Regions from separate parts of the Homo sapiens genome. Here region 2 is linked to region 1. A link means that fine-mapping ties the variant in region 1 to the expression of a gene that starts in the linked region. Tissue or cell type: sigmoid colon. Region 1 holds a variant in brackets; the other region holds the start of a gene. All regions are shown on one strand. Distances are from middle to middle.

The links. PIP is the estimated chance that this variant, and not a neighbour inherited with it, causes the effect.
Region 2: it holds the start of MROH2B, and the variant in region 1 is fine-mapped to the expression of MROH2B in sigmoid colon (GTEx, PIP above 0.99).

Annotation. Positions count from the first base shown.
Region 1 is chr5:41,001,741-41,009,385 of GRCh38, forward strand. MROH2B (maestro heat like repeat family member 2B) reads right to left here. Exons shown (of 42, transcript NM_173489.5): 32 at 7,540-7,645; 33 at 6,866-7,053; 34 at 5,574-5,714; 35 at 3,791-3,905; 36 at 3,034-3,180; 37 at 2,606-2,788. Among named protein-coding and RNA genes, the nearest start is that of MROH2B, 66 kb to the right of the region's middle. RefSeq lists an enhancer at 6,685-7,645. The variant A/G (reference allele first, on the strand shown) is at 4,796.
Region 2 is chr5:41,066,620-41,074,264 of GRCh38, forward strand. MROH2B (maestro heat like repeat family member 2B) reads right to left here and starts at 4,723. Exons shown (of 42, transcript NM_173489.5): 1 at 4,206-4,723; 2 at 3,072-3,133; 3 at 489-599. The coding sequence starts at 4,233. It overlaps LOC105374739 (a long non-coding RNA gene), which reads left to right and starts at 4,738. Exons shown (of 6, transcript XR_001742650.2): 1 at 4,738-5,309.

The DNA.
Region 1 (7,645 bases):
AAACAAGAGAAAGGTGGTGGTGGAGGAAGATGGCCTCCTATTACCTCATTGGAGTTACGTTTCAGAGTTCCGACAGGGAAGAAACGAAGTGAGATGAATTTCATGGAGGTTTTTTTATTTTTAGACCCAGAAAACTAGTTTAAAATACCCATATGAACAAAAAGGGATTAAAGAAAAAGCAGTCCTGAATAGCAGAATATTATTTAGATAAACAATAAAGTTAATATAGATCTTCTAAAAAATGATGGCTTGTTGGGAAGAGGCCAGAAAAGCTCAGATGTGACTTTGTATAATGAAAATGAAAGTAGAAACACATTTTTTAGATTTATTAGGAATAAGGTCAGGATACATTTTTTAAAAGATACCTCTTTAGAAAGAGGAAGCTAACCAAAAACAAGGTACCAAAAAGGTAGAGAGACATTTAGTTAAAAAAGCTTGAATTTTGCAAAATCAATGAGCTAATGATAGGTCCAGGAACAATCAACCAATCGAGATGATGAAAAATCAGAAAGAAAAAGTGGCAAAAGGATTTTGGGTGCTGGGAGAAATATTAGAGAACGTCTAGTCCAATGTCCTCATGTTCACTTGAGAACATGGAGTCACAGAGGGTAAAGCGATTGCTCAGGGTGACAGTGTGGGGAATAGTAGCAAGAAGGGAATGGAGCATGGGGCAGCAGCCACATTTTCTGTTCTACCATTTCATTCAAGTGTCACCATGTTTTGAAAAGTCTAAGAAAGTATTTAAATATTGAAAGAAACAAAGGAAGAAAACTTGGAGATTATAGAAAGCTATGCTTAATCTACATAAAAATATTGGGGCAATAGATCATAGAGTTAAATATACTTATGTAAAAATGGCATTACTGGAGAACAAATAAGAGTCAAAGTTTTGTCCAACTTTACTTTTATGCAAACGTGATGGAGTTGACACCTATTAGAGATGAGCAAGGTCTGAGCTAACAATCAGCAAGGCTTTAGCACATTTTATCCTTCTCTGATGACACTGGGCAACATTATCTTGACCACTAAATTGTTAAGTGGACTTGTGATTTACTGGAGGCTCAGATCTAAGAGAATTATTATTGGATCAACAACAATCCAGGAAACTTAACAGCTGGGGTTCTGAAGGGGTGACTTCAGCCCTGAACAACGAAGAAAAAGAATATCTTTGTTATTTTTACCCCAGTAAGCATTTTTGAGGACAAGATAATTAAAAATTGCTTTTTTTTTTTTTTTTGAGATGGAGTTTCACTCTTGTTGCCCAGGCTGGAGTGCAGTGGCATGATCTCGGCTCACTGCAACCTCTGCCTCCCGTGTTCAAGCGATTATCCTGTCTCAGTCTCCCTAGTAGCTGGGACTACAGGCGCGCACCGCCACACCCAGCTAATTTTTGTACTTTTACTACAGATGGGGTTTCACCATGTTGGCCAGGCTGGTCTCAAACTTCTGACCTCAGGTGATCCACCTGCCTCAGCCTCCCAAAGTGCTGGGATTACAGGCGTGAGCCACCATGCCTGGCCTAAAAGTGATATTGGTTAATTGGAGGAAATAGTTGGAAACAAGCAGAAAGATGTTTTCAAAGGCCAGGTCTAGGCTAGCACATAGACAAGAAAAACTGCAAAAATACGAAACTGAAGAATGCTGTGGGCATATATTACAGACTAAAATCTAGAGGTTCATATAGTTAGCATGCCAAAATCAGGAAGGGCAAAATTAAAAAAAATAATGGAGCAAAGAAATGGGAAAAGGTTGGATTTGAGAGGTAATATATCCTTAGATTCTATTCAATACTTCTTGAGCCTCATTTAGAGTTCCAACTCAGTCACAGGCTTGCAAAATATTTAATGAGCAGAAAAATTAGGTTTATGATGAATAATGAAAGAAATGAAGACTTCTCAAGTCTGCAGACTGTAAGGTAAATAGGTAATCAAATAAAGCCTTAATGTTTATGAAGAATGCACTAGAGAAGGCAACTAGCAGTTTTCCATCTCCTCTGACAATACTACATGAGGAAGCAGGTTTAGATTACAAAATAATAGGTTTAGGTTAAAAATAGATTTTTACATTGATGGCAATGAATAACCAAAAAATAAATACTAAAATGTGCTTCCTGGAAGGCATAGAGGAAAATGACCCTTCTCTGCCTAGGACTGCTGACTGATCTTTTTTGAAATTGCGATTATGGAGTACATCAAAAGCTGGCAAACGTTTTCTCTAAAAGGCCAGACAGTAAATAGTTTAAACTCTGTGGATCCTAAGATCTCTGTAACAGCCAATCAACCCTTTCTGAGGGGTGAGGAAACCGGGAAATTTATCTACAAACTCTTGTTTCTTATTGTTTGAGGGTCCTTCCTAGGGCATTTCTTCCCCCAACAATTCTGGCTCAACTAGCTTAGATCAATCATGACTGCCAGGCCATAGAGCACCCTCAGGCAGAGAGATACAGGAAGCCAACAGCTTGTATAGAGATTGTCTGCAGGTGACCTGTCTGGGGCAGGCCAAGGAATATGGGTGGGACACTGACAATGTCTTCTGTGAGCACTACCTAAACCTGTTTCTGTTCACTCACTTCTGGGGAGGGAAGTTCCTAAACAGGCTCACTTACATCTTCAAAGAAGGTCCTTGTTTGCAGCACTATTTCCTTGAAGTAGAAGCTCACGTCTCGGTCTGTCAGCAGCTCCAGGATTTTTTTTAGAGCCTTCAAGCTTTCACAGACGACTTCAGTGCGAGCTAGGTGATACAGGCCTCTGATGATAGATTCTAGCATTAACTGCTTATGTTTCTTCACCTATTTTGAAATAAGACCTCTTAATCTTGAAAATTGTTCTATGCGTATCTGGAAGAGGGTAGGAGTCCTCAGACAAGAGGACTGAAATTTTGTCAGGGTCACATGTAGTTCAACCGAAGGACTACCACTTCAGCAATGTATCTGGATTTCCAATTAATTTGTATGCAACAACTAGGCGTGGGTTATTAAATCATTATTTCAAAACTCTACTTAAATGAACCATTTCCCCTTAAAACGCCTTTTACCTTGTGAGGAGCCCCGGATGCTGTGTTGCCGAGCCCTCGGATGGCCATCTGCCTCAGAGTGGCGTTGGAGTCCCAGGCACTTTGATCCATCAAGATCAGCACATTTCGCAGATTCCCATGCTTCCAAAGGATTGGTTCCTTCATGAGCTGAAATAATCAACACACTCCTCCCGTTTAGTTAAGGGCGTGGCCCCTCCTTCAGGAGAGTGCCAAAGACATCACAAGTACAATTAAAGAGAGGACCCCACTGCTTGTGCAGCGGAGGAGGAAGCCCTCTGGTGAACCAGCAAGCCTTGCTGAAGCTGAGCTCTAGATATGAGCAGCGCACAGGTCAAGCTTGCATGGTGATGTAAACCCGGTTACCTGCATAACAGATGTCTAGTCTCAATGGAAAATGGGGCAGGGAAAACAGGAATGACTGATAGTTTTCCTTCTCTGGATTGGCTGGAATAGTCTTCAGGCCGGAATTTGAAGCGTCAGTGCTACAATGCTTTGTTTGATCCCTCACAGATTTATTGTCCCCCTTTCTCTGCCTTCTGCAAACTAGAGGGCAGGAGGTGGGTGAGGTGGTTTATTTTCCTCTCTCACCCCCTGCTTAGGTACCATATATCTGGCAGTAGCTGGTCTCTCCTCTATGAAACCCCCCCCCCCCTTGAAGTCTCTCTTCCCTGGTTCCAGTGCACACTGGGCTCCAGACCATAAGAGAAATACCCTATGGGGACCCAGTGAGTGTGCTCTGAGGGCTGTTCTCCCTTGCCTCAGAGAAGAAAGCTGCGCCGGTTATCCGGTAGTTCTCCGAGGAGGAGGTAAGAGATGAGAGCAGCTGTTCCATGATGTCCAGTATGACTCCGTGTTGCCACACTGCCATGCTCCTAGAAAATGCACATTTTAGCAGAGACATATTTTACTAAACAATGGAGGAAATCTTAGTCTGTTTGTTCATCAGGCAAGTAATTTGTCTAAAAAGGAATGCTTGGCTGGGGGTGGTGGCTCATGCCTGTAATCCTAGAACTTTGGGAGGCCGAGGCAGGTGGATTGCCTGAGCTCAGGAGTTCGAGACCAGCCTGGGCAACATGGTGAAACCCCGTATCTACTAAAATACAAAAAATTAGCCAGGCATGGTGGTGTGCTCCTGTAGTCCCAGCTATTCAGGAGGCTGAGGCAGGAGAATTGTTTGAACCCAGGAGACAGAGGTTGCAGTCAGCCGAGATCGCGCCACTGCACACTCCAGCCTGGGCGAAGAGTAAGATTCTGTCTCCAAAAAAAAAAAAAAGAAAAAAGAAAAAAGAAAAAAGGGATGCTTGATGAAAGCCCACCAAGGCTTAAATTTTAAAATGGCCTATCCAATTGTCCAATTTAAATGCAGTTTGTCTAAACAATCCCATCAAAAAGCAGGCTAAGGACATGAATAGATAATTCTCAAAAGAAGATATACAAATGGCCAACAAACATATGGAAAAATGCTTAACATCACTAATGATCAGGGAAATGGAAATCAAAACCACAGTGCGATACCACCTCACTCCTGCAAGAATGACCATAATAAAATAATAATAATAAAAAAAAAGGTGTTGGCATGGATGCCGTGAAAAGAGAATAATTTTTCACTCTTGGTGGGAATGCAAACTAGTACAACCACTATGGAAAACAGTGGAGCTTCTTAAAGAACTAAAAGTAGATCTACCGGTTGATCCAACAGTCCCACTACTAGGTATCTACCCAGAGGAAAAGAAATCATTATACAAAAAAGATACTTGCACAC[A/G]CATGTTTACAGCAGCACAATTTGCAATTGCAAAAATATAAAACCAGCCCAAATGCCCATTAATCAATGAGTGGATAAAGAAAATGTGGTATATATATACCATGGAATACTACTCAGCCATAAAAAGGAGTGAAATAATGGCATTTGCAGCAACCTGGATGGAATTGGAGACTATTATTCTATGTGAAGTAACTTGGGAATGGAAAACCAAACATTGTATGTTCTGTCTCATATGTGGGAGCTAAGCTATTAGGACGCAAAGGCATAAGAATGATACATTGGACTTTGGGGGTTTGGGGGAAAGGGCAGGAATGAGGTGAGGGATAAGCCTACATATTGGGTGCAGTGTACACTCCTCAGGTGATGGGTGCACCAAAATCTCAGAAATCATCACTAAAGAACTTATTCATGTAATCAAACACCACCTGTTCCCCAAAAACCTACTGAAATAAAAAAATAAAATTTTTTTTAAAAAGCTGATTAAAAAAAGTTCAACAGAATTCTAGGTATGTGAATATTAAATATTTCTTTCAAAAAATAAGTGTAATTTGTCTAAAGATGTTCACCTGAATCATGTTTCTTGAGGTGAGTGGTGTGTGTGGGGCTGATCTTACCATCTCTTCCCATTCCCTTTTCTTTCTTTCCTGTTTGTCCTCCTTCGACTATTAGTCCTAAGTGAATCAATTATGCTCAGTGAAGTTGCCTGTATTGCACTTTTGTTTGTTTGTTTGTTTTTGTTTTCTTCTTTGTATCTGGTTCTAGAAAAAGTGCACATTACCTGGCCAGTGAACATACGCCTATGTGGTGGGTACTAGGACTGCTGAGTAGAGTCCATAAGTTGTCCCCCTCATCAGATTCCTTTGCAAGGCCTTCTCTCATGGCTTGGGCTTGCAAACATTTTAAAGTAGCAGTTGAAAGCCTAAAGGAGACAGTCAGCATTACAAAACTAAGTTGACCCTTATAGGGAATTGCAAATTCCCAAGTTTGCCTTTCCACTCCTCACAATGCTTTCCCACCCCTGGACTAGGGGATGTTGTGTAAGGGAAAAACAGGCAGCCCTATGCTCACATTTTAGCCTTGGGATCCATGGGGACATGCAGATGATGTGGGCCAGTAAGTAATGCCACAAAATCTTGTCAACACTCCCCCCATAAGAAAAAATAGGCCATAAGAATAAAAAGTGAAAAATACCATATTTCACTGATTCTAAAACACGATCTCTGAAATCAGGATGCATCTTGCAGTAGATGTGTGTTACAATTGTTCTTGGCCAGACAGTACTTGTGATGTAGTTGCTATTGTCTGTACATTCACATGTGCTGCCTGGTTCAGATATAGCTCTTTATATTACCATCATTTTAGTAAAGTTACACGTATTATTGGAACTATTACTTTTAATGGTAAAAACAGCAATTACTTTTGCACCAACCTAATACGTGTTGACTAAACGGTGTTTAAAGTGTCTTTAAAAATGTTGCACTATAATTTTACATTGGAATGAAAAGTTATGCAAAATGCAGGGAAACAGAATGATGGGATATGAAATGAAAATTCATACTTCATAATCCTAAAAGAGTTCTTTTGATAAGTACAGAATAAAAATTTTAAAGTTTAAGAAAGCATTGATTCACTGCTTACTTTGGAGTTCTTTTCTGTTTTCTCAATGGTATGCAAAAAATTGCTTTTTTTCAATTGCTGAAGTCTCAGAATTTATGAAATATGGTATTTATTTTTATTTTTCTTTTTTCCCTGGTGGCCTTGAAGATCACAAGATTCCAGCCTCTCTAGAAAGATCTCAATGATAGAAACCAAAGATAATATAGTAGTTCCTCTAGGAAAGAAAGCATAGCCCCTTATTCTTTAAGTGACTATTCTGTGTAGCTACACTGGATACTGGCTCAAGAAGAACTATGGTGTCACGGCTTAGGGAGAGTAGAGCCTTGTAGAGCCTTGTTTCTTCATGGACAATGGATGCTATGACAGAAAGCACAGACCCTGACTTCTGCAGCACCACTCCTGGAGTCTGGGATTAGGACCACTGTGGAAGATGCTTCCTGATTGGCCGTTTACCTGCAGGGGTCTGGGATCTGCTGCTGTTCTCCCTGCTGCATCACATGCCGCCTATGGCTCCAGGGACAAGTGAGCATCTTCTGGCCCAGTGTGCAGCTAACCAGCTTCAGGAGGAGAGTGAACAGCTCTGGATACAAGCCGGTGACAGAGGTGCCCATTGAGATCACTTCATACATAGCACAGGCCACCTGAGGGGAGAAAGGGCCTCTTGGTCAGGCAGTCTCATTTTCTCCAAGGCCATCTTCTCTCTGGGCTGATTTTCAACTTTGTTTTCTCCACCAGTAAAAACACACAGAAAAGGGAGGGTTTATTGTCTGGAAATTTCTCAACTCAGGGCCTGCCATGTTAGTCCTGTGACTGCCAGGGGACACTAGTCATGTAAAATAAAATGTTTTCAGCATTGGGGTTTTTCAACAAAAAGGGTCCTTTGGATATCTTACAGACTTATCTAGAAATATAGATACATAGGTTTTTTGGGGGGTTGATGAGAAATTTGCTTCTAAAAATGATCAGCCACAGACAAAAGTAGAGCCACAACTATAAACTGGAGTAAAGTTAGGGTATGAGAGAAGAAGGAGGTGTCATTAATGTGACAGCACCAAGCTCCAGGTGGGGATAGATCATAAAGATGGCGCAGTCTCAGGCAAGTGATGGGTTCAGGCTGTCCAACTCACTGAAATTGCCTCAACCCTGGCGATGTCATCTTCTAACTCAGTCTCCAGTTTGTCTATTAAGGCTTGCAAGAGTTTCCCACTGGAGGCTGGCTTTTCAGCCAGCGCC
Region 2 (7,645 bases), 65 kb after region 1:
ATCATAAATTGTTAGTGCCCTTGGCAGGAACAAGTAATACTTCTTTCTGGAAGAAATAACATCATCCTAGGATTCAAATTACTTCTACAAATTATTATTTTTTTGCTATGTTGTCTATCAGACAATCTAAGATAGTAGGTACATAAAGAAATAAGTCATATAGAAGCCAAGAAAATTGGTTTCTAGTTATGTTACTAGTTGTCAATAGACAGCTGTGTTACTTTGAAAAAAACATATCTCTAATGGTGAACTTCCTCATCTAAAAGGAGGTTGGATAAAATCACCTTTAAAATCATTCTTATCTTTGCCTCAGTTTCCTCATCTGTGAAGGAGTAAATATCAGGCATTATAACGATATCCAAGTTACCACAAAGAACAAATACAAGTGATTTGTGGTCCTGGCAACAGTGTAGAAGAGCTTACTGATGTCCACATGGGTGCAGTTGGGTCACATAAAGACCCTTTTCACCATCATGAACCAAACTTACATTGTTGTCTCTCATATCCTTAGAAGCATAATAAATCAATCGTTGGACAATTGCATCATCCAAGATGTCAGTATTCTGAATAACAGAAGTGAGATGACTGTAAATGTCTTCCTGTGAATATACAAAGGCATACACAGAAATTTGGCTTGCAAAAATAAAGGAATCAAATGAAATCCTAATGAATAACACCATTAAAGTAAGCAATATATCTTTACTACACAATGGATTTCATATTATATGTCTTAATTGAGGCTTTCTTTTTTTTTTCTATTTTTTAAGATGGAGTTTTGCTCTTTTTGGCCAGGCTGGAGTGCAATGGCATGATCTCAGCTCACTGCAACCTCTGCCTCCTGGGTTCAACTGATTCTCCTGCCTCAGCCTCCCGAGTAGCCAGGATTACAGGTGTGTGCCACCATGCCCGAATAATTTTTGTATTTTTAGTAGAGACGGGGTTTTTGCCATGTTGGCTACGCTGGTCTCGAACTCCTGACCTCAGGTGATCCACTTGCCTCGGTCTCCCAAAGTGCTGGGATTACAGGCATGAGCCACCGTGCCTGGCTTTAATTGAGGCTTTCTGAACATAACATGCATCTTTAGGAGTCAAAGGCTACAGAGCAAAGTCAATTCTAAAAACTATTTTAACTTGGCTATATTTCTATGGCAAGATCTAATTGACAACCAGGAGAGGCTACCTGCCATTCCATGTCTTTTGAAAATCACTGTTGTGGGACACTCAGGGGAATGGAAATGCCTGTCAGCTTAATTGCTGCCCTTACTATCAGGGAGTGATATGGTACTAGGGAACACACTGTAACTCCCCAAGAGGCTGCTAGGCTATGAAACTGGATCCTAAGGGACATTTACAGGCCCTTGTTTCATTCATGCCTCTGCAGACAGAAAGTTGTGGACATTTTAGACAGGGCCTCCAGTTGTGTGGCTTGACTAGATGCCCTGTGTGAGGAATTGTAAATCTTTTAGGTGGCTATGTGTCCTCTGGATGATGAAAGAGAGACTGGTGTACTGAAATCTCCAACAGCTTCAACATGCACCTCCAGCCACTCCACCCATGCTTAAGTTGTTAAATAGCATCCTTTGCATTACTCCTCAGGGCTGGTCCTTGGGAAGTCTGAGAATAATGCATAATTTTTCTTTGCTTTCTTCCCTGTATTTTCTGGGCCTGCCTAACTATCTCTGTGAGTCCTTTTCTTGCTCCATGTGCTTACTATCCTGTCTGCAGGCCTTGTTCTTTGGCAAGGCTACCATTTATGGAGCTCTCACCACATTCCTGGAACTGTGCCAGACTCATTATCTGGAGCATTTTATTAACGCTCACAAGTCCCTGTCTTAGGTACCACAAATATATTCATTTTATAGATGAGGAAATTGAGTCCCAGGGAGCTTAATGTAGTTAGTGTTACGTACTGATGCTACAATTTGAAACCAACAGTCTGAATTTTAGCTGGCACCTTAACCTCTTGGTTATGCTGGCTATTATTATTCTTTAACTAGACTCATCATAAAATAACTAGGAAGTGCTTGTTAAAAATATATATTCTCTGATCCCTTTACTGGAAATTCTCCTTCAATGTTTCTGGGATCCGGAGGTTATTCTCTTAAGTGATTCCCAATGTTTGAGAAATAGTGTTCTTTCGGAAAGGTGACTTCTACTGAGAGATTAATGTAATGGTTTTCAACCGTACCTAAATGTTTGGATTACCTCCAGGTGCTTAAAATGCCCAAGCTTTTCACAGACTGATCCAATCAGAATCCCTGGTAGTAGGGCCTGGGTGTTGATATTTTCCCAAAACTCTCTAAGGGATTCTAATATATGGTCAGGGTTGAGAACCACTGAATTAAGAGATAAAGGTATAGGCACTGCCCTTCACAAGGAGACAACACTGAATAATGATTAGGAACATTTTTTTTTGGAGTCAGATGGGCTTGCTTTTGGATATAGTCCTGTTGTTCTTAGTTGAGCAAGTCATGTAACTTCTCTCTGCCTAATTTTTTCTCAGTTATCAAATGGAAATAGCAATAACTACCTGATAAAATTGTTCTGAGGAGTGAATATTATACAATACACTGTTGTTTGGAAAATATCTAGCATTTTACTTCCCAGATAAGTGTTCGATGAAGGGCAGTTATTTCTTTTATTTTATAAAAGGTTGTTGAAATGTGAAAAGCCTTCAATTCTTAGGTAAACTTCTAGCTGTGAAATAGCATTATAGATGAGCAGGGAAGAGCTTTTGGGATTTTTGTAACAACCCTCAAATTATAAAAGAAACAGTCTCATCCACATGTTTGTAAGTCTGACATACACCTTTCAACATCTGCCTGTATAAAGTTATAAAAAGGAACTTTTTTTTTGCTATTTTCTAGACATAGATGCTGTGATTCTTGAAATGCCAAATATCATTGCTTAAACATTACAATGACTTTCATTACAACTGCATTTACTGAAAAATCTAATGCCATGTAACAAGCCAGAGAAAAATGAGAAAGTTGAGACAAAGAAAAATATATACGAAATGTTGCAACAAGAAGACTGAAAAAGGGAAAAAGATTTTTCTCTGTTTTCCCTACCTTGTTAACAATATCTTCCTTGTTCAGCATGCCAAGAGTGAGGTTAATATCCCCAAACATCTCTAAAACGTACAGAAAAATATGAATTGAAATATATGCTGAAATGCCCTCCTGTTAATTATTTTGTAATCAACACAGAAAGTTCATTCATTCATTTATCCTCTCTCTCTCTCTCTCCCTTGACTGCTAGCTCTTTGATGGCAGGAACTGTTTTATTCATATCCATGACATAAATGAAACTAGCAGATGCTAAGTTATTATTATTTTTGAAACCTGAATCAAATGTGAAAGGGAAGATAAAAGATGCCGGATTCCTATGTATCCCTCCAGGCAAGTGGGCATTGCCTTGTAAATTCTCTCTTGCAGGATTTAGCTCTCAGAGTCAATGAGGTGAATTTCTCACTCCTGACTTAAGCATTAGAAGGCAGGGGTGCAACATAGCTGTTTATTTTTCACTGGTCCTCCCCTCAATACCTCTCCCATCTTCTTTTTCCATACCCTTTTCAACTCCACCTATTCTCCTGTGCCTGCCAACTCCCTCTTTTGGTCACATGCTAATGAAGGCTTCCTGTTTTCTGACAATGACCTAAATGTGTTTGACTTGCATTTTCTAGGAATATATGTTTTTGAATAAAGCACTCTAGAAAACTGGAAAAAAAATTGAGTCAAAGGAATTGAGCAATTTCAAGCTACATGGCAAGTTGGTAGGAGAAATACTTTTGGAGATGAAGATTTCTTATTAACCTCCACACCAAACAACATACTCATTTAGGGCAATCTTTTTGGCAAAGTAGAAAGGCAGCCATACCTGGAAATTGGGAGAAATACTTCCAAAGGACTCTTCTAGTATTTAAAATTAAATAACAAACTGCCTTTCTTTGATATGTAGCCACTTTCTCCTCAGGTAGACTCTAAATTTTAAAGCACAACCATCTCTTAGGCTTCCAGTCTATTATTGGTCCTTCACAATCAGCATGATTTTATTATGTATTTAGCATACCATTTCATAAATCCTTTGAGGTGTACAGTCCTCCCACAATGACGCGCCACTCCCAGCCCTCATATATACTTATAATTCCACAGAAACAAAACACAGGGAAGAGCCTTGGCTTCTCAGGATCTGATGATGCTTACCTATGGATTCCTCTGTACTAAGTGTCATGTCTTGGCTGTTTCAGGGTCTCTAAAAGATAGCACCTAAGTATTAGAAATAGTAAGGCTAAAAAATCAAAGAGGCAGGTTGGCAAGTTTCTCATATAAGGTTCACATAAGCCTCTCTAAATGAAAGTGCCTCCTCCACTTGATTGGCACAATGGTCTGGGAGCTTCCAGAGATGGGCTTGCTGTTGAAGTTGATACTGTATTCTACCACTATGACATTGTCTTGCGTCTGAACTCCTGCTAACCAACAAAATGGCTGCATCTCACCAAATATTGTCCCTTTGGTGACCAGAGTATTTGGGAAAGAAGTAATTAGAGACTGGGATTCAAACCATTGTTGCAGACCAAAGGTGCTCCTCTCCCTAAACTTGAGTCCATTGATCACAAATTCAGGAATGGTTTTCAGTAGTTGCTTTACTGTCCTGATGTTGGGAAAGGCTTTATGGTGAACTCGTTGATTGTTACACTTAGTGAAAATCAGTCATATGAACTGAGCATGCTCAGTGGACTGGAATGCACTTCAGGGGCAGTTGGATGGAATGTCCAACTGACAGCAGCAAAGTGAAGACCTCTCTACCTCCCTCTCCATTAATTCCTCCCTGGCATGTTCAGGATCTTGGCCTCACTCCAGGCTCAGGCTTTTTCTCTGTCTTCAGCTTTCTTTTTGTTTTCAAATTATTTTTTATCTAGATCAATTTTCCATAATGTTTTCAACTTATCTAGCATGAATTGAAATCTGGTCCCCAACTATAAATCTATGTGATGACAATCTTCAATATATGTCCAGACTCTATGTGAATATGGAGGATGATAGAGAAAGGGAAGGCAGTACTGCTAGTCTATAGGGCTAAATGTAGAATGGGCTGAGGAGGGGAGCTCATGACAATTTTCATCTGCTGCTGCTTTTTTGGCCATCTTAACTTCATCGGTGAAGCTTATTCCAGATTCAAAGGTCAACTGCTTCCAACTAAACCTTTGAATTCATCATTCTTCTCATAGACATTTTGCACTGTATTAAAGAGATCCTCAACATTTTCCGCTTCCCAAGTCAGCATCACTTTCAGAGTTTTGTCTCCAGGTGACTTTATCATGGGATTTACTTGGTATCCTTATTTAAAATGTGAATTCCCAGGCCCCACTTCAGACCCAGTAAATTAGAATGAGGGGGCAGCAATCTATATATTTAATGTGCGCCCCTGGTGATTCTTAGGTTCACTGAACTTTGAAAAGCACTGACCAAGGTCCTTGCCCAAACATTCATTAGTGGATCAGTAAATAGCAGTTAACTGAAGAATGTTTGTTGTGGTTGGGCAAGGAGCTCTTCCCCAGCATCATGACTCACTGAAGAATAGGCCAAGTTTGGTTAGTCAGGGAGGTACTGGGGTGATTAGAGGCATCCCGAAACTCTTAACATCTATAAGATGTTAAGTCTACTTGTAGTAAATAAAACAACAGATTCCCTATAAGGGAAAAAATGATGTTAGAAATTATGTGCTCTTAGAGTCTTAAAAAACAATGTACAGCAGAATCAATAATAAGAAAGCTAGCCATTTAGGTAATTGTTACAACCATTTTCTTAATATTTTTGTGAATGGTGACAAATGATTTTTCTGTATGTCTGTATATAAAGACTTCCTTGATTTCATAGAGATTAGAGAAGTTAGGAGATAATTGATTTATTTTGACTTTTAATTTATTCATCGCTGCAATCAAAACACAACTTTTTGCTAAAATCCTTTCAGACAAAGTAAATTCACTCATTGAAACCAATACTGCAGATAGTTTTAAAATCCCCAAATCCTCAAAATAGCTGATTTGCTGTCATTTTATTTCATTTTTCAGTCGCCTGCTTGTTACATCTTCCCATTATTTCTTCCTCTTCTCATTGCATGAGGCTAACACAATATGGATTTGATTTCTCTAAGACTCTAAGAGGATCCTAAACACGAATTCTCAAAGTGAATAGGATGGCATGTGCTAACTAATTAAGTACTGTTTCTAGATATTTGTGAGGGAGCCTAAATCTAGCCTGCTAAGGAATTAGAGTGTCTCACTGGATATGTGGTAGCCATCCCCTTTCAATGTAACTTGTCAAATGAAGCTACCCAATCCCAGGCCTACTATGTTCCCACATGATGTTATCAGACAAAAATATTAATAAGGCAGTAAAGGTAAAATATAAAGCTAAAGAAGAATAGATACATAGAAATAATACAGAAACGTTATAAAAATTTAAATTTTATGGTTTTAATAGTTTAATTGTAGATGATTTTAATGTATACTACAATTAATCTAAACTTTGATATTTATCCTTTTATTCTTCAGATGACGTGTTAGATTTTTATAAAATATATTAAAAGTGAAATTAGGCTGTGTTTTGTTTGATTTGTCAGTTTCATGAGATAAGCCTAATTTCTTTTTTAAAAATTTTATTATTATTATACTTTAAGTTCTAGGGTACATGTGCACAACGTGCAGTTTTGTTACATATGTATACATGTGCCATGTTTGTGTGCTGCACCCATTAACTCGTCATTTAGCATTAGGTATATCTCCTAATGCTATCCTTTCCCACTCCCCCCACCCCCCAACAGTCCTCAGTGTGTGATGTTCCCCTTCCTTTGTCCATGTGTTCTCATTGTTCAATTCCCACCTATGAGTGAGAACATGCGGTGTTTGGTTTTTTGTCCTTGCGATAGTTTGCTGAGAATGATGGTTTCCAGCTTCATCCATGTCCCTACAAAGGACATGAACTCATCATTTTTTATGGCTGCATAGTATTCCATGGTGTATATGTGCCACATTTTCTTAATCCAGTCTATCATTGATGGACATTTGGGTCGGTTCCAAGTCTTTGCTATTGTGAATAGTGCCGCAATAAACATACGTGTGCATGTGTCCTTATAGCAGCATGATTTATAATCCTTTGGGTATCTACCCATTTATGGGATGGCTGGGTCAAAAGGTAATTCTAGTTTTAGATCCCTGAGGAATCGTCACACTAACTTCCACAATGCTTAAACTAGTTTACAGTCCCACCAACAGTGTAAAAGTGTTCCTATTTCTCCACATCCTCTCCAGCACCTGTTGTTTCCTGACTTTTTAATGATTGCCATTCTAACTGGTGTGAGATGGTATCTCATTGTGGTTTTGATTTGCATTTCTCTGATGGCCAGTGATGATGAGCATTTTTTCAAGTGTTTTTTGGCTGCCTAAATGTCTTCTTTTGAAAAGCGTCTGTTCATATCCTTCACCCATTTTTTGATGGGGTTGTTTGTTTTTTTCTTGTAAACTTGTTTGAGTTCATTGTAGATTCTGGATATTAGCCCTTTATCAGATGAGTAGGTTGCAAAAATGTTCTCCCATTCTCTAGGTTGCCTGTTCACTCCGATGGTAGTTTCTTTTGCTGTGCAG